2 separate regions of the Homo sapiens genome follow, and region 1 is reported to be linked to region 2. The links are microRNA targets in miRTarBase. Many come from high-throughput screens and were not tested one by one. Region 2 holds a microRNA gene; the other region holds the end of a gene's coding sequence.
What was found. The annotated mature microRNA hsa-miR-324-5p reads CGCAUCCCCUAGGGCAUUGGUG and lies in region 2 at 5,090-5,111, shown strand. An mRNA with a match to its seed (bases 2 to 7 or 8) in the 3' UTR can be bound and repressed. Matches are read on the target gene's strand: a 7mer-m8 pairs with bases 2 to 8, a 7mer-A1 pairs with bases 2 to 7 and ends in A, and an 8mer does both.

Region 1 (11,398 bases), not on the chromosome of region 2:
TTCCACCCCAAAGCCCTGGTAACCACTATTCTACTTTCTGTCTCTGTGAATCTGTCTATTCTAGATACCTCATAGAAGTGGAATCGTACATTATTTGTCCTTTTGTGTCTGGCTTATTTTACTCAGCATATTTTCAAGATTCATTTGTGTTGTGGGATGTAGCAGAATGTCATTCCTTTCTAAGGCTGAGTAGCATTGTATGTATTATCCATTTATCTGTTACGGACATTTGACTATTGTGAATAATGCTGTTGTGAACATTGGTGGACAAGGAACTGAAAGTCCCTGCTTTTCATTCTTTTTGGCATAAACCTACAAGAGGAATTGCTGGGTCTTAACGGTAATTCTGTGTTTAATTTTTGGACGAACTGCCAGACTGTTTCCACAGCAGTTGTACTATTTTACATCCCCACCAGCGTTACACAAGGATTCCAATTTCTCTACATCCTTGCCAACATTTGCTATTTTCTATTTTTTTTTAATAATATCCATCCTAATGGGTGTCTTTTTTTTTTTTTAAAGGAATGGTTTAAACAGGTTACCTTCTTACTCCTCATTCATGCTTTAGTTGACTACATAAGGACCCCTCTCCCTATTGGCACCATTGAAATTGTTCAGGCAAAAATAACTGCCAGCGACACACTGCTTTAAGTAATGGACTTTTCCCAAGTTTTGTATTAATATTTCAGTATTTGGTAGTGCATCCTACTGCTAGTTTTTAAACTCTTCCCTTGTCATCTATCATCTCATTCTCTCTTGACAAATGTGAAAATGGAAGCTCAGAAATAAAACAAGAATTAAAACGAATAGTGATCCTTCAGGTAACAAGCTTCATTTATCATGAAAACATATATGTATGAAACATTCTGTTTTCTGATGTTATTGGATAAATTAGGTGATAACCAAATTCTAAGTTCCAAAAATTAAATATACTCTATCTAAGGACTTTAACATGGCAGACAATGGTGACAAGGTCAAGAACATGTTTTAGAGTCTTCTCCTTTGGTCGGTATTCAATGATACAACAGTTGAAAAGGCCAGAAGAAAGTTAACCTAGGATGGTGGTTTTTGAATATCTAACTTTCACTTCTTTCCCATCTTCCAGGAAGTTGGCTGGAATGTGATGACTTAAAAGGCCCATGTTCTGAAAGGCACAAGAAATTTGAAGTTCCTGCTTCAGAGATACATATTGTTATTTGGGAAAGAAAAATATCCCAAGTGACAGATAAAGAAGCTGCCTGCCTTCCACTTAAAAAGACTAATGACCAACACGCTCTCAGTAATGAGAAACCAGTATCTTTAACATCGTGTTCTGTGGGTGATGCTGCCTCAGCTGAAACAGCCTCAGTAACTCACCCTAAAGATATATCAGTTGCCCCTCGTACTCTTTCACAGGACACAGCTGTAACTCATGGAGATCATTTACTTTCAGGTCCAAAAGGTTTGGTTGACAATATTTTACCTCTGACACTTGAAGAAACTATCCAGAAAACAGCCTCAGTTTCACAGTTAAATTCTGAAGCTTTCCTGTTAGAAAATAAACCTGTAGCAGAAAATACAGGAATTCTCAAAACCAATACTTTGCTATCACAAGAATCACTAATGGCTTCTTCAGTATCAGCTCCATGTAATGAAAAGCTTATTCAAGACCAATTTGTGGACATAAGTTTTCCATCCCAAGTTGTAAATACAAACATGCAGTCAGTACAGCTGAATACAGAAGATACTGTAAATACTAAATCTGTGAATAATACTGATGCTACTGGTCTTATACAGGGAGTGAAGTCAGTAGAAATTGAGAAGGACGCTCAGTTAAAACAATTCCTTACACCAAAAACTGAACAATTAAAACCAGAACGTGTCACATCTCAGGTATCTAATTTGAAGAAAAAAGAAACTACAGCAGATTCTCAAACCACAACATCTAAGTCATTACAGAATCAGTCTCTGAAAGAAAATCAGAAGAAGCCATTTGTGGGAAGTTGGGTTAAAGGCTTAATAAGCAGGGGTGCTTCTTTTATGCCACTCTGTGTTTCAGCTCATAATAGAAACACTATAACTGATTTACAACCTTCAGTTAAAGGGGTAAATAATTTTGGTGGCTTTAAAACTAAAGGTATAAACCAGAAGGCCAGCCACGTATCCAAGAAAGCTCGTAAGAGTGCAAGTAAGCCTCCTCCCATCAGTAAGCCACCAGCAGGCCCTCCATCGTCTAATGGCACAGCTGCCCACCCACATGCTCATGCTGCTTCAGAAGTTTTGGAAAAGTCTGGAAGCACCTCATGTGGAGCTCAACTCAACCACAGTTCTTATGGGAATGGTATTTCTTCAGCAAACCATGAAGACTTGGTGGAAGGTCAGATTCATAAACTTCGTCTAAAACTTCGTAAAAAGCTAAAGGCAGAAAAGAAGAAATTAGCTGCTCTTATGTCTTCCCCGCAAAGCAGAACAGTTCGAAGTGAAAATCTAGAACAGGTGCCCCAGGATGGGTCTCCAAATGATTGTGAATCAATAGAGGACTTGTTAAATGAGCTACCATATCCAATTGATATTGCCAGTGAGTCTGCATGCACCACTGTTCCTGGTGTTTCCCTGTACAGTAGTCAAACTCATGAAGAAATTTTAGCGGAATTATTGTCTCCTACACCTGTTTCAACAGAGCTGTCAGAAAATGGGGAAGGTGACTTTAGGTATTTGGGAATGGGAGATAGTCATATCCCACCACCAGTACCAAGTGAATTCAATGATGTTTCCCAGAACACACATCTGAGACAGGACCATAATTATTGTAGCCCCACCAAGAAAAATCCATGTGAAGTTCAGCCAGACTCTCTGACAAATAATGCCTGCGTTAGAACATTAAACTTGGAGAGTCCGATGAAGACTGATATTTTCGATGAGTTTTTTTCCTCCTCAGCATTAAATGCTTTAGCAAATGACACATTAGACCTACCTCATTTCGATGAATATCTGTTTGAGAATTATTGAATTAATGCTTGTTAACTTTTTTCATATAATATTTATTATTATTAGAAGAACTTACAATGTGTTCAGGTAGTGTTTATACACTGGACTTGTGTAATTACTTGTGTAATAACCATGAACAAAATGCAAGGTTTAACCTTTGGTTCTGCCCATGAAGCATGTAATCTTTCTTACACATTAAAATCACTGAATGTGTTCTCCTTTTTGGTTTCATTTTGTTCTTGTGAGAGTATGAGGATTTCAAAATGTTAAAGATGAAAAGTGGCGTCTAGTTTCTGACAGTTTGTACAGTTGGATGCATTACATTTTTAGATTTGAAGTTTTGGTTATGTTAGTGTTATGAGTGATCTTTGTGGTGGTTTTCTTCCCCTGGAAACCTGTTGCTCGTGGCGCTTTGCCCACGGTGCCCGAGTTCTTGTCCTGTGTCCAGATATGCAGACAAATGAAGGGTGAAGAAGAAGAAGAGGAGCTTTATTTAGTGTTAGAACAGCTCAGAAGGAGACCCACAGTGAGCAGCTCCCCTGTGTCGGCGGGCAGGTCGTCCCTCAAGTGTTCAGCTCTCAGCAGAGAAAAGGCCCTGGAGAGGGTGACTCCTCTCAGCTCTCAGCAGAGAAGCAGCCCTGGAGAAGGTAGCTTCTGTTCGCAGGCAGATTGTCCAGAGGTCCTGCTGCTCTCAGACGGGGCCCTGGAGAGGATAGCTTCTATCCATAGGCAGGTTGTTCTGCCGTCTCTACAGGTCTCTGAAGCTCTTAGCAGAGAGGGTAGCTCCTCCCTGTTGCTGGTCGTCCCACCCTCTGCTCAGTTCTGGCTGAGCCTGGGGCATTTTACGGGCCTCGGGGGAGGAAGTGCATACTTACTGGCCTGGAAAAGGCACCAGTTCCCACTCCTACAGGTGGGACTGGCAGCCTGGCCCTCAGCCTTCAGGCCCTCCCTGTTCATGGCTTCCAGGCTTACCCCCCTGCTTTGATCTGAGAGCTGGTGCCAATAGCAGGGAGAAGCCAAGCTGCAGAGGCAAGCACTTCCGAGCCTGCAAAAGCAGGCCCCCAAAAGTGCAGGGATGCCTGAGTCTGCACCCGCACCCAGGAGGGTGGAGATCTTGCCTGCTCCAAGGCTGCAGCCGGAATGATAGCAGGCTGACTGGAGCACCTGCCACCATCATTAGTTCAAGAGTTTATGCAGATTTAAGTTGTATACGGTATATGAATGTGTGACAGTTTTCCTTATGGTTGTGTGGCCTTCTGTAAGAGCCTACGCCTGTTTGTTACACCGGTAGAGTGCTGTGGAATGTAAACTTTCCCTATGTCACTTATCTCCTTTATCTCTCCATACAGAGGAGGGCAAGAAACCTTGTTACTTGAACTTTAGTAATGTTAAGTGATCAATAAATCTATAAATAAATGATAGCAGAAAAAAGTTACCTGTTTTTGTGATGATGTACAAACTTTACATGTTATCACAAATACCATCTTTCTTCCCAAGACATTTACTTCTGTAACCAAAGTGGGACACCATCTAACAGTTCTGTTTTGGGAGAGAGTAATAACCAGTGCTTGTGAGGCTTGTTAGATGTTGGTTGTGATATATGAGATAGATGTTATTTCATTTAGACCTCAACATTCCTGTGCGTGAGATACTTTTATCACATCTTACAGATAAGGAGACTGTACTCATTCAGTTGTGGAGCTGAGATTGAGTAGAGTGGCTATTACAGCAGTTGAGTGCTGAGCTTATCAATATATGTTCCACTCCTCAGGCTTCATTTAAAGTAGGATGCCCAAACAGCACCACTGCCGTAGAGATTTGAGTTAACAGCAGTACTTACTGAGGTTTAAGGCTGGCAGCCAGTGTCCTTGCAGTAAAATTATTTGCTAGGGACTCAGTACTTCATAATCTATTTGTCAGATTTACTCCTAAGCTTCTGTGTTGTTTTATTTTTTTTCTGACAAAAGTAGTGCATATTGTCAAGGAAAAACTAGGAAAATACCAAAAAAAAAGATTTTTGACCATGCATTTTAATACTTAGTGACTACAAACATTTTCCTATTTTATGCATATAGATTTTAAATAAACGTGAGATCCTATTGTATCTGTTTTAATGGATAAACATTGTTTCACTGTTTTAAGATTCTGAGGTGATTTATACTGTCTTGCCATTGTTAATTGCAGCAGTTAGCCTTGTTGATAAATTTTTGCATGGATCCAAGTTTTGTTTTCCAGGAGTGGAGTTGCTTGGTCAAAGGAAATGCACATTTAAGGTTTTTTGGTGATTGCATGACTGACTTCCCTGGGCCCTCGCCAACACTAGGTAGTAGTATTGGGAGGAAGGGGGGAACCAATCCTGGGTGCTCCAAGATTACTAGTGAGCCTGAACATTTTCTATAACTATTGTCCACTTGAGTTGTTGTTTTGTTTTTTTTTTGGTGGAGGCGGGGGTGGGTTTAAGAATTGCTTATCCTTTGCTTGTACTAATTATCTTTTCAACAAATATTTCTAGATTACTGCTAAGGACCAAGCACTGTTATCAGCCTGAGATAAGGCAGCACACTAGAAGGAAATCCTTGCTCCTTTTGAGTTTGCCTTCCAAACATGGAGATCAATATATAATGTTAGGTAGTAATAGGAGATACATGCAGTTGATTCATGTCATTTGTAGTAGTTATGGTCAATAAAGTTGCCTTGAACACTGAATTAGTATAAACTGAAATACTGTTCCTAGGGGAAATAGGTTCCTGCTAGCCTGTGGTCATGAGATTTTTGTCAAACAATCACTATATAACCTTTTCTGTTTCTGTTTAAAGACATGTTATTTGATCTATATGGTTGATTCTTTACATTAACATGGCCAACAGCACTGTAACTCAGCCTGAACGAAGCTTATCTGACACATGGTGTTCTCCATAAGGCACATCATAGCTTTCTGTGCTTAGGAACACTAGACGGCACTTCAGCACTGCACTTGAGGACGTTTTAAACAGTGAAATCAACAAAAAGCACAAAAAAATGCAACAATAGGCTGGGCAAGGTGGCTCACGCCTGTAATCCCATCACTTAGGGAGGCCGAGGCGGGCGGATCACGAGGTCAGGAGATCAAGACCATCCTGGCTAACACGGTGAAACCCCGTCTCTACTAAAAATACAAAGAATTAGCCGGGCGAGGTGGCAGGCGCCTGTAGTCCCAGCTACTCGGGAGGCTGAGGCAAGAGAATGGTGTGAACCTGGGAGGCGGAGCTTGAAGTGAGCCGAGATTGCGCCACTGCACTCCAGCCTGGGCGACAGAGCGAGACTGCGTCTCAAAAAAAAAAAAAAAGGAACAATAACAAAGACACTAGTCCCCCAAAAATACACTTGTTTACAGTGTGAACTGAAAGAGGAAGGTGGAGTATTGACTTGTTTGACCTCAGCTGGAAATGTGCACGTCCTGTGACTCAAATTTTTCTCTGTTCTGTGCATGCATGTCCACGAATAACCACAAGAAGCACTGAAAGCATTGATTTTTAGGGTTACAAATTAATTTTAGCAAGTAAATGAATTCACAAATACGGAATCTGTGAGTAATGAGGACTGATTCTTTTTTTTTTTGGAGATGGAGTTTCACTCTTGTAGCCTAGGCTGGAGTGCAATGGCATGATCTCGGCTCACTGCAACCTCCGCCTCCCGGGTTCAGCCTCCACCTCCCGGGTTCAAGCGATTCTCCTGCCTCAGCCTCCCGAATAGCTGGGATTACAGGCTTGCACCACCATGCCCGGCTAATTTTTGTATTTTTAGTACAGACGGGGTTTCACCATGTTGGCCAGGCTAGCCTCGAACTCCTGACCTCAGGCAATCCACCCACCTCAGCCTCTCAAAGTGCTGGGATTACAGGCGTGAGCCACCGCGCCCGGCCGAGGACTGATTCTTATGTCAGATGGCACTAAATGCTATGGAGAAGAGGAGTGGATGAGAGGGAGAAGTATTTTAGACCAGGTAGACTTGGAAGGTTTCTTGGAGGTGGGTGATGTTTGAGAAGAGGCTTCAATAAAGTTAGGGAGCTCGCCATGTGATTGCAGGAAGAGCGTTCCAGGAGAACAAAAGTCATGAAGAGTGAGTGCTAGGCATGTGTCTGGTCTGTTTGGGCTGCTATAACAAAATACCTTAGACTGGGTAAAATGTATAAATAATAGAAGTGTATTGCTTATAGTTCTAGAAGCTGGGAAGTCCAAGATCAAGGTATCAGCACATTCTGGTGAAAGCTGCTCTGCTTCATGGCTGGTTCTCTCACTGTCCTCACATGGCATAAGAGGGGCACAGAGCCCTCAACCGTCTCTCCAGTGGCCCCATCTCTTAGTACTGTTGGATTGGGGATTTAGACTTCACTAATTTTGGGGGGACACAAACATTGAGACCACAGCAGCATGACTGAGGATAAGCAAGAGGCCAGTGTGGTTGAGCAGAGTGATCAGTGAAGGAGAGTTAGGACATGAGTAAAGAGGCTAGCAGACACCAGATCTCATATGGCTTTGTAGGCCATAGTGAGGACTTTGTTTAAGCTGAGAATAATAGATAACCTCAGGAAAGTTTCAGGCAAGAGGGTAACATGATCTGATCTGGGTTTTAAAAGGATCACTGAAGTGGGGAGACTGTCTACAGATGGTCTGAATAGGAGTCCTAGTCTATTACAATCTCCTTGGAGTTTAGGGTGGTAACTGGAGGTGTTCAAGAGTAGTTGGATTACTGTTGGATTTCAAAAGTAGAGCCAACACGATATGTGCATTGGCTGTGAGGTAGAAGAGGAGTCAAAATGAACTCCAGGTTTTATTGACTGAGCAATTGTGCCATTTCCTGAGATGGGTCAGATTTGGGAAGGAAAGAATTTAAAGGGGATAAGATAATCCCATTAGGAGTGTGTTAAGTGTGAGATTCCTATTAGACTTTCGAGTGGAGATGATTTAATAGGAAGATAGATCTGCAACACTGGAGCTCAGCGGAGAGGGACACCCTGGAGATAGCCGTTTGGGAATTAGGAATGTGTGGATCATGTTATAGGATGGGGTCATTTAGGGACTTAAAACAGCTCTGAAGAACAAAAATGGTGCCTTGATCTTGGACTTCCTGGTTTATAGAACTGTGAGCAATATATATATATTTTTTTCAAGACAGAGTCTTGCTCCGTCATCCAGGCTGGAGTGCAGTCGCACCATCTCGGCTCACTGCAACCTCCACTTCCTGGTTCAAGCAATTCTGGTGCCTAAGCCTCCCAAGTGGTTGGGACTATAGGTGTATGACACCATGCCCGACTAATTTTTGTATTTTTTTGTAGAGACAGGGTTTTGCCATGTTGGCCAGGCTGGTCTCAAACTCCTGACCTCAAGTGATCTGCCTGCCTTGGCCTCCCAAAGTGCTTGGATTATAGGCGTGAGCCACCATGCCCAGACTAAATTTCTAACATTTATAAATTATCCAGTCTAAGATATTTTGTGATAGCAGCCCAAGCAGACCAAGGCAAAGGCCAAGCACACTTGCTCCTCCTGACTTTTGCTCTTCCTGGAATGTTCTTCCTTTAGTCACATGGTTGCCTGCCTAGCTTCATTCAATAGGAGTGTGGTGCCCTGAAAATACAAGGAAGAATGCTTTTCTTTTTTTTAAAAGGAAGGGATGATTATCTGTCAGATGCTGCTGAAAAAGAGTAATAGAGTAATTGGCCACTGGCTCTGGCAATAGGGAAGTTAGCTCTGCTAACTCCACATGAACAGTTTCACATGAACAAGTGTGAGTGGGCTCAAGAGAAGGGATGGTGAGAAAGTGGAGCTATGGACTCACTCTTGAAACATTTTCTGGTGCCTCGTAGGGCAATGTGAGGTCAAGGTTTTTGTTACTGTTCTGAAGATGGGAGAGGCTGACACATGGATGTTGTAGGTGAGAGAAGGGGCGCTTGCGGGGGCAAACTTCTCCAGGGATGGGATTCCAGTGTCTAAGAGGAGGCGGTGTGACCCTAAGAGCTAGAAAAATTATTTTATTAATAGGAAAGACAAAGTACTTAGGCTCAGATGCTAAGAGATTTGCTGATAAAAGAATGAGAACGGTCTCTTCTGATTATTTTCTTGGGGAAATAAATAGATCATCAGCTGAGGGTGTGAGGGGAGAAGGAGTTGAACATGGAGGAAGACAGGTGTGAAATATTGGTCTCAGAATGGAGAGCGAATTGAATAGGGACATGCAGTGGGCTTGCTAAGCTGTGCGGAGAGCCCGTGGGAAGTTTATGGTCATCAATTTAATGGCGACCAGCCAAGATGGTGGTTTATTTTTCTCCAGTTGTATTTAACTGCTCAGGTGCAGGACAGAGAGACTAAGTGTGAAGTTAATTTCAGCCAACGTAGAGGAATTGTCAGGCAGATGGGACAAGGAGATAGAGGAGAAAAGGAATAAGGCTTCCTGCAAGGGTAATGATTGTAGGGATGGATAAGTAAGGAACACAGGAAGTGGCTGTCTGCTGAGTGGTGGCAGAGCTCAGTGGGTCAGAGCAAGGTTCAAAGAATGGCAGAGAGGCACTTGTGGAGGAAGTAAGCTGGCTAGAAAGTAGTGTGCTTGAAATTAAGCTTCTGGAGATAGCAAGGTTACAGGTGATGACAAAGTCTGAGTATGACAAGGAAACTGCAGGGCCAGAGTTGGCAAGAATTCATGAAAAATGAGGAGAAAGAGGCACCAAGAGGCTGGGATAGCACATGGATTGTCTCTGTGTGAGGCAAAGTCATCTAAATGGCAGCAGTGGCCCTAGCAGAAAGAAATATACAGTGAGCCGGAGCAAAAATCCTCAAGGACAGGCAGAACGCCATGAAAACGGCAGATGACAGCCAAAGGAGCAGGGGCAGGGGCTCAGTCCAAAGTGTTTCAGAGTCACTGGAGGGTTGAGTGGGAAGGGGAGGGAGTGGCTGAAATGGCAACAAGGAAGAACCTCTCTCATCTCCAGGCCCAAAAGTATGTGGAATGCGGGAGATAAGACAGCCACCACTGGCCAGGGCTGTAAAGGGACATTCAGCGAATATTCAGGTTCCATTTAGCACGACAGCAGGGAAGGGACTGTTGGCAGAAAAAAACTGGGGCAGTGGGATTAAAGACAGACCACACATTCCAAAAGGCACCGTGGGAGGGTCAGGGGGCGAGGTTAGGTCTAGGCTTCAGTGTCCTGGGAGACTCAGTCTTCACAGGGTGACAGCGATCAAGAGTGCAGCTTAGGCTGGGTGCAGTGGCTCATGCCTGTAGTCCCAGCACTTTGGGAGGCCGAGACGGGAGGATTGCTTGAAGCCAGGAGTTTGAGACCAGTCTGACCAACATGGCAAAACCCCATCTCTACTAAAAATACAAAAATCAACTGGGCATGGTGGCGTGTGCCTGTAGTCCCAGCTACTTGAGAGGCTGAGGCAAGAGAATCACTTGAACCTGGGAAGCAGAGGTTGCAGTGAGCTGAGATCGTGCCACTGCACTCCAACCTGGGCAACAGAGTGAGACCCTGTCTCAAAAACAACAACAACAAAAAAGAAAAGAGTACAACTTATGAAGGGGTCTCCTGGGGAGAGGGTTTTTGGGATTCTCCTGCCTCTCAAAGTGCTGGGATTATGGGCGTGAGCCACCACACCCAGCCGAGGGAGGCTGAGTTCTAATTGTTGTATCTCTCTTGGGATTGGCCTCCTGGGCAGTTTAAAAGACAAGGCAAGGAATCTTTTGGAGAAAGAGACTGGGGGCAAGGTGTGTCTGAACAAGAAGTGTGAGAAGCTCTGTGGGCTCCCTTCAGACTTCCAGTCGTTGAATTGGGATCTCATTTATATCAGCTCTAGGTGTAACGATATTAAATCTTCTCTGTCATTTGGCAATTTTGGTTTATGCTTGATCATCATTTTTAATGTTTCGACATGTAGAAGTTTAACATTATTTTACATTCTTTTCCTTCTGGCATCATGTTTTAGCAAGATTGTTTCCACCAAAAGAATATATATATCTTCTAATGAAACTACGTTTCTTTTTTTTTTTTCCTTTGCTTTCTCTTTTGGTATATGAATCTTTGATTATTTGTAATGTATTTTGATGTGTAACACTGAAGTTTCTATTTTGTACTATTTTTTTCCCCAAACAGTAAACTTATTGTTCAAATACTTATTGAACAACCTTCACTATTCTTTAACCATTTAGAATACGCCATTCACATATCTTTCATACTACATTTAATAACATTTTTTAATTAAAAAATATTCTACTGATTTGTTTATTTTGAGACCAGGTTATGAAACTGGCTAATTTTTGTATTTTTGTTAAATACCGAAATTCACTGTGTTGCCAAGGCTGGTCTCGAACTCCTGGGCTCAAGCAATCTGCCCACCTTGGCGTCTCAAAGTGCTGGGATTACAGGTGTGAGCCGCTACACCCGGCCACACCCGGCCAACAC
Region 2 (7,161 bases):
CAGATGTCCCTTCCTGCTCCCAAATGCCTCACTGCCCCAGGGGTAGTCACTCTCCTGACTTCTTTGGCCATCACCATAACAAAGAAAAGCTTTGCCTCACTGGATAGTTACCACCCTTGCACGTATCCTTGAACACTGCAGTTTCGTTTTACCTGTTTTTGGACTTTCTGTGAATGGAACTGTACAGCGTGTACTCTCTTGTCTCACTTGGCAGTATGTTTTTAAGAGTTTTCCATGTTGATGAGTCATCCACATTGTGGTGCCTTCCACCCTCACCTTCTCTAGCCCAGCCGCGATGTGCTTGCTTCTCCCCCTCTTTGTGTCTCTTAATCCATCCTTGCTTCAGACCCCCGCCCTCCTGAGGCCTCCTCTTCCCCTGCGCCCTTGACTGGACTTCTCTTCCCCATAGCCCCATTGTGCTGACTGTGGCCAAGTGCTGGGATCCCTCTCCTCAGGCCTATTTCACTCTCCCCCGAAGTGAGTGACACTCAGGGAGGGGCCTGAAGTTGGGGGTGGGGGCTGCCCAGGAGGCTGGGGCCGGGCCTGTGGTCATGGGGAATGGGTGGGAGGAGGGTCCAGGCAGAGGTGGAACAGGAGGCTGAGTCAGGGAGGGACTGGGCTGGCTTTTGGGGACTGAGAATGGGTCATTTTGGTGCCATCTTTGTCCCAGATGAGCCCATCCAGCCAATTGACCCTGCTGCCTGGGTGTCCCATTCCGCGGCTCTGACTGGCACCTTCCCAGCCTATCCAGGTTCCTCCTCCATGAGCACCATTACATCTGGATCGTCTTTGCCTGATGGTGAGCCGCCAGCCCACCTCATCCCACCCTCCCAGCAGAAGGCTGTCCCGCAGTGGTCTGATCCATTGCCCTTGTGGGAGCGATCCCTGACTCTGGTTACCCGTTGTCTCCTCTGCCAGGCTGTGAAGGCCGGGGTCTCTCCGTCCATACGGACATGGCATCGGTGACCAAGGCCATGGCAGCTCCAGAGTCTGGACTGGAAGTCCGGGACCGCATGTGGCTCAAGATCACCATCCCTAATGCCTTTCTGGGTATGGCTGGGTCCTGGGCAGGTGGCTGGAGAAGGGGAGGAGGTGGTGACCAAAGCCAGGAATGGCACAGGCAGAGGCGAGAGCAGGAGTTGGAAGAAGAACCTGAGGCCTTTTTCCACTGTGGGTGCTCCCAGGCTCGGATGTGGTTGACTGGCTCTACCATCACGTGGAGGGCTTTCCTGAGCGGCGGGAGGCCCGCAAGTATGCCAGCGGGCTGCTCAAAGCAGGCCTGATCCGACACACCGTCAACAAGATCACCTTCTCTGAGCAGTGCTATTACGTCTTCGGAGACCTCAGTGGTGGCTGTGAGAGCTGTAAGTCCCCCTGCCCCAACTCTGGGAGTGTGGCTTTGCCTACCTTGTTCTGCCTCTCCAACCCTAGACCTAGCCCAGAAACCGCAGCCAGGGCCACCATGGATGGTCGAGCAGTGTGTGTCCCGCACTAGGTCCTGCACTGGCCGAGGATGGGGGCTGACGTCCACCCATGTGCTGCTGGACAAGCCATGTGCCAGGTGCAGGACTGTGTCCACCGGGGGAAGGTGCACCTCTTACCTGAGTCCCGCAAAGACGTGGGCTAGTGGCTGTGCCCCTGCCCTCATGGCAGAAGTAGATGGGAGTTTCTTGTCAGAGACCCTTGTGAACCCCTGTTTTGAGCCCCATCGTGGGTGGGTCTGGGAGAACTGTTCCCAGTTCCTCTCCATTCGGTGTCTTGGGGCCCTAGCCTCTTGAAGCAGTGATTTCTTCCTCTCTTCCCTTGCTTTCCAGACCTAGTCAACCTGTCTCTCAATGACAACGATGGCTCCAGTGGGGCTTCAGACCAGGATACCCTGGCTCCTCTGCCTGGGGCCACCCCCTGGCCCCTGCTGCCCACTTTCTCCTACCAATACCCTGCCCCACACCCCTACAGCCCGCAGCCTCCACCCTACCATGAGCTTTCATCTTACACCTATGGTGGGGGCAGTGCCAGCAGCCAGCATAGTGAGGGTAAGTCATCCCCACATACCTGTACGGCCAGGATCTGAGGGTGGATGAGAGGGGAGCCAGGGAGGAGCCTGGGTGAGGACTCAGTTGCCCCTCCCCTCCCTCCACAGGCAGCCGGAGCAGTGGGTCGACACGGAGTGATGGGGGGGCAGGGCGCACGGGGAGGCCCGAGGAGCGGGCCCCCGAGTCCAAGTCCGGCAGTGGCAGTGAGTCTGAGCCCTCCAGCCGAGGGGGCAGCCTTCGGCGGGGTGGGGAAGCAAGTGGGACTAGCGATGGGGGCCCTCCTCCATCCAGAGGCTCAACTGGGGGTGCCCCTAATCTCCGAGCCCACCCAGGGCTCCATCCCTATGGACCGCCCCCTGGCATGGCCCTCCCCTACAACCCCATGATGGTGGTCATGATGCCCCCACCTCCACCTCCAGTCCCTCCAGCAGTGCAGCCTCCGGGGGCCCCTCCAGTCAGAGACCTGGGCTCTGTGCCCCCAGAACTGACAGCCAGCCGCCAAAGCTTCCACATGGCCATGGGCAATCCCAGCGAGTTCTTTGTGGATGTTATGTAGCCCACTGTGGGGCCAGGCTGGGCCGGGCGCTCCTGGTGTGTGACTGGGTGTCCTGGCCGTCATGTGCTTGCTCTTACAGTGCCTGGGCTCAGCCTACCAGCTGCTGCCATACAGGAGATTGTGGCCACTGTGACTCTCACCAGCAGTGCCTGGTTCCTCCCCCTTCCCTCAGGGGTAGACAAGGGACCTTTGATTATTTTTAGCTTTGTTTTTTTATAAGCCTTTTTGGGGGTTAAAATAGAGTTTCTTACATTTTTGGGACTTTTTTAATAGGCATTTCCTCTTTTATATGAAGAATTCCCATCCATTGGGCCCCTTCTAACCCCAGAATGTGACCTCCTCCTCCAGTTACCCACAGCCCTGCCCTTTGCAGGGTTGGGGGTGGTCAGCGGTACCCCGGGGTTAGGCATCCTAGACAGCAGCCTGAGGAAGCTGGGAGATTTGGGCCATGTAGCTGCCTTTGTTACTCTATTTATTTTAGTCACTTGTATAAAACACCAAATAAAGCAATAGAGGCAAACTCCCCACGCCTCTGGCTCCTTTCTTTGGGAGGGAGGCAGGCAGCAGGGGGAAAGAACCGTCACACAGGAGCAAAGCATGACTGGCTAGAAATTTTTATTATTTGCGAGGCAGTAAGTGCTCTTGAGAGCAGGCACAGTGCTGGGAACACTAGGCCCCTTCGGGACAAACCAGGGCCTTAAGGAAAGGGGCTTCGGCTTTGGCTTGAGGGAAGGCACATAACTGGGACAGGCCCTGGCCGGGAGTATTCAGAAGCCAAGTGGGTTGCTGGTGACCACACCACCCCGCTCCACCAAGGCCTTGGAGATGCTTTTGAAGTTGCGGTAGAGCTCTTGCTGCCAGGGGTCAGACTGCAGGGCGGCCATGCCCTCTCGGATCCGAGCTGCAGCCTGGGGAGAGGGAAGGAGGGGTTGGGCCTGCACCTCCAGCCCTCACCTGAGCTTGGCAGCCCCGAGTCTCACCTCGATACACCAGGTGTCACAGAGCATTTTCTCATGCTGGGCCGTGGGGTGGCCCTCACTCAGGGATCTTGAGGCCCTGGCAGGAAGCAGGAGATGAAAATAAATCTGGGCCGGCTGGGATCCAGGCCCAGGCCCCCTGCGGCTCAGGCATTCCCTGCCTGCCTCCTCACCTCGAGAGAACCACCACCATGGCATAGAGGTCGATGGCCCCGTCTGCCAGCCGCTGCAGCAGAAACTGTTCATCTGTCCGGTAGGTGGGGTGGGGGTGGGGGTGGGGGCATTAGTCTCAAGGAGAGGAAAGGGAGGGGCGGAATGGTGTAGAGCTCACTTACTGACAATCCCCTTCTTGTGTTTTATCAGCTTGGCCTCCACCACAGTGGCAAACTGCTCCAGAGCCCGTACTGCCTTAAGAGATGGGGACAGTGCGGGGCTCAGAGGGGCCATCGGCTGCAGTCCCTGATGCAGGCTCTCCTGGACCCCTGGCCACTTACCAGCTCGCCACTCCGACTCAACTCCGGGTGGACAAGTCCGCTGAGACTCAGGCCGCTGCCCAGCCCTGCCCGCCTGAGAGGAAGAGGGAGAATGACTGGTTAGTTGCCATACACCACCCTGCCCTCCCCTGGCTCTGGCCCTAAGCCTACCGCCTCAGCTGTTTGCCTGCCTCTCCTAGCAGGAGGCCAGCATTCCCAAAGGGATTCTTTAGAGCACTGCCAAGCCCAGAGAGCTCCTTTCCTTTGTCCTATGGGGGAAGAGGGTCCAGCAGTCAGGACTCACTGTCCTCCCCACCTCTACCCCCACCCAATTCTCTGTCTTACCATACAGCCCTGCAGAGCCACAAACAGCCGAAGAATGTCATTTGTCCCCTCAAAGATCCGGAAGATGCGAAGATCTCGGAGCACACGCTCTACTCCAGGTTCCTAGCACAGGGCCACACAAATTATATGCCCGTGCTGAGATGTGCCTACCCACCCCTGGCCCAGCCGAGGCTCTGCAGAAGACCGTCCTGTACCTTCATGAAGCCCATACCCCCCATGATTTGGATGCATTCATCTGTCACCTTCCAGGCTGCCTCCTAGGGACAAAGAACAGATGAGACTGGTTTTGGGAGCTGAGCACCCAAACTGGACTCCCTCCCAGCATGCCTGGGACCTCACCGAGCCAAAGATTTTGCTGATGGCGGCCTCTATCTGGAAGTCCGTGGCTCCCTGGTCCATGTTAGCACTCACCATGTAAGCCATGGACTGAGGTTGCATAGTTGGGACATGGGAAGGAAAATTGCAAAGGGCTTTGTCAGACTTGGCCTCATCACCCAGATCTCCAAGATAAGGGCTGACCTAGCTTGTCAGGTCAGGCAGATACTTGTTCTGGGTCAGTTCATCAGGTGCTTCCAGGTATTTGTTTTCTTAAAAGGGGTGGATGTAAGGGATGAGGTAGAATTAACTTCTGGTACTGCTGGCAGGCACCTGAGCAGAACATCATTGCTGTCTCTCTTCGCAGAAGCTGAGCTGACTATGCCTCCCCGCATCCCCTAGGGCATTGGTGTAAAGCTGGAGACCCACTGCCCCAGGTGCTGCTGGGGGTTGTAGTCTGACCCGACTGGGAAGAAAGCCCCAGGGCTCCAGGGAGAGGGGCTTGGGAGGCCCTCACCTCAGTTACATACTGCAGCATAACCATCCGTGCCAGCTTCTCCTGGATCAGCCCAAAGTTGTGAATTTTCTCCCCAAACTGGGTACGATTAGTGGCATGATCTACCTGGAAGAGGGTCCACACATCCCGCTGTGGTTCAGTGTGGTTCTGCAGTCTCCCTAGGAGAGGGGCTGGGCTTGCGCCAGAGGGATGGGTTTTGCATACAACCAGAGTTCAGTCTACGCTGGATGGAGACCTAAGCTAGCAAGTCGGGCTGCTGGTAGGGGAGGAGTTTCTAGTGTAGGGAGTGCCTGCAAGTGATCAGGGACACATGGCAAGGGGGACAGTGAGACTTCTGTTTGGGTTACCTAGGGACTCGGGCAGGGTACTCACCGCCTTAGCAATGATGCCTCTCATGGTACCTGCCAGGGCCGCAGCCATGCCAAACCTTCCATTGTTGAGGATGTGCATGGCAACCTTGAAGCCACTCCCAACCTCACCCAGCACGTTCTCCGATGGCACCCGTACTCCATCAAAGAACACCTCTGCTGTGTTTGAAGCCTTGATGCCCATCTTCTTCTCAGGGGGCCCACTGTGTCAGGGCAGTGTGGGAAAGCAGAGGTGTGTTCAACAGGTTGTCACTGGGGGAAAAACTGCTCCTTCGCTCCTTATGCACCAGGGAGGAATGACGACCACTAGACTATTAGAGGCTACAGCCACCACTTCCCCTCAGGCCCTGAGGGCTAAGGAGGCCTGGCTATGTCCTATTTTGTGTTGGACTTGGTTGCTGGAGCCAAAACTTTAGCTCAGTTGCATACATATTAGTCCCAAAGGCCACATTCAGTCCACCTGCTTTGGCTTTTGCACACGTCCCCAGGGTGACTTGCAACAGCCATCTGCCCAGGAGCCCAGTCCTGCCCCTCAGTCCTAAGCTCCCCCAACCCAAATTCACTCACTGGGTAATGCCCCCGAAGCCCCTCTCCACCACAAAAGCTGTGATCTTCTCCTTCACGGCTCCTGTGGCTGGATCTGTAACTGGTGTCTTGGCAAAGACCGTGAAGATGTCTGCTAGGCCCCCATTACTGTGGAAGAATGGGATATTCAGGGCGTGGAGGACGGGGAGCAGTGGGGCCTGGAATTGGGCGGAGGAGAAGGGGAGAAATGGGAGGCAGGTTGCCTGATCCAAAGCTTGCTTCCATTGAGGGTATAGTATTTTCCACAGGGGCTGGGCACAGCAGAGGTTCGGATGGAGGCTGCATCTGACCCGCTTGAGGGCTCGGTTAGACAGAAAGCGGCCACAGTCTCCCCTGTTGGGGAGAGAGCTACTTTACCCCAAGTTCTGATGAGCTTCAAAGTCCCCTCGGCCCACTTCCCCATCCCTCCAGCAGGCAGTTCCCCCTTAACACCTGGGAGTATCCAGTTCTTTTGCATGTCCCAACCAGCACACTGTGATGCCTCCCCAAAACCTTCCCCCAACTGAAATGCTCAGCCATCTGATAATCTAAGTGCCAACTGGCCTAATCTGTGCCAAGCCCAGTGTGCCCCCCAATCCCTGGCTCTCCTAGGGTTGCCTCACCAGATGCCAGCTTGGGGAGGTATTTTTCTTTCTGGGCCTTTGTGCCAAAGAGCAGGATGCCTTTGAAACCGATGCTCTGATGGGCCCCCAGGGTAATGCCCACGCCAAGGTCATGCATGCCCACGATCTCCACCAAACGGGCGTACTGGAGGGGAAGCAGGAATCTGGGGTTGTCACTGGCTGCAGGGGGACCTGACCTTAACAGGAGAGTGTGGGCAACAGGGCAGTTCCTGACCTAGGGCAGTTCCTGACCTAGGGCAGTGCCTGACCTGGGCCATCCCCAGTGTGTAGAAAAGAAGTGGGGTGTGCAAAGGGCACAGCAGAGAATGCTGGTCTGTCTTAGGTCTAGGTAGGAGGGTGACTTGCTACTAGTCAGTCTATTGTTAGGCA

Region 1: miRTarBase lists USPL1 as a target of hsa-miR-324-5p. Seed matches in the 3' UTR shown: 7mer-A1 at 3,279-3,285 and 7mer-m8 at 4,040-4,046.

What each region holds. Positions count from the first base shown.
Region 1 is chr13:30,656,369-30,667,766 of GRCh38, forward strand. USPL1 (ubiquitin specific peptidase like 1) reads left to right here. Exons shown (of 9, transcript NM_005800.5): 9 at 1,106-4,398. The coding sequence ends at 2,988. Among named protein-coding and RNA genes, the nearest start is that of TRN-GTT2-4, 12 kb to the right of the region's middle. RefSeq lists enhancers at 2,934-3,693, 3,434-3,553.
Region 2 is chr17:7,221,293-7,228,453 of GRCh38, reverse strand. MIR324 (microRNA 324) reads left to right here and starts at 5,075; the gene lies at 5,075-5,157. It overlaps ACADVL (acyl-CoA dehydrogenase very long chain), which reads right to left. Exons shown (of 20, transcript NM_000018.4): 7 at 6,772-6,916; 8 at 6,373-6,502; 9 at 6,152-6,277; 10 at 5,589-5,787; 11 at 5,217-5,321; 12 at 4,724-4,810; 13 at 4,579-4,641; 14 at 4,385-4,486; 15 at 4,211-4,308; 16 at 4,061-4,133; 17 at 3,902-3,974; 18 at 3,740-3,812; 19 at 3,570-3,645; 20 at 3,188-3,497. The coding sequence ends at 3,357. DVL2 (dishevelled segment polarity protein 2) reads left to right here. Exons shown (of 15, transcript NM_004422.3): 10 at 410-477; 11 at 671-799; 12 at 919-1,050; 13 at 1,185-1,364; 14 at 1,815-2,033; 15 at 2,141-3,112. The coding sequence ends at 2,589. RefSeq lists an enhancer at 2,999-3,498.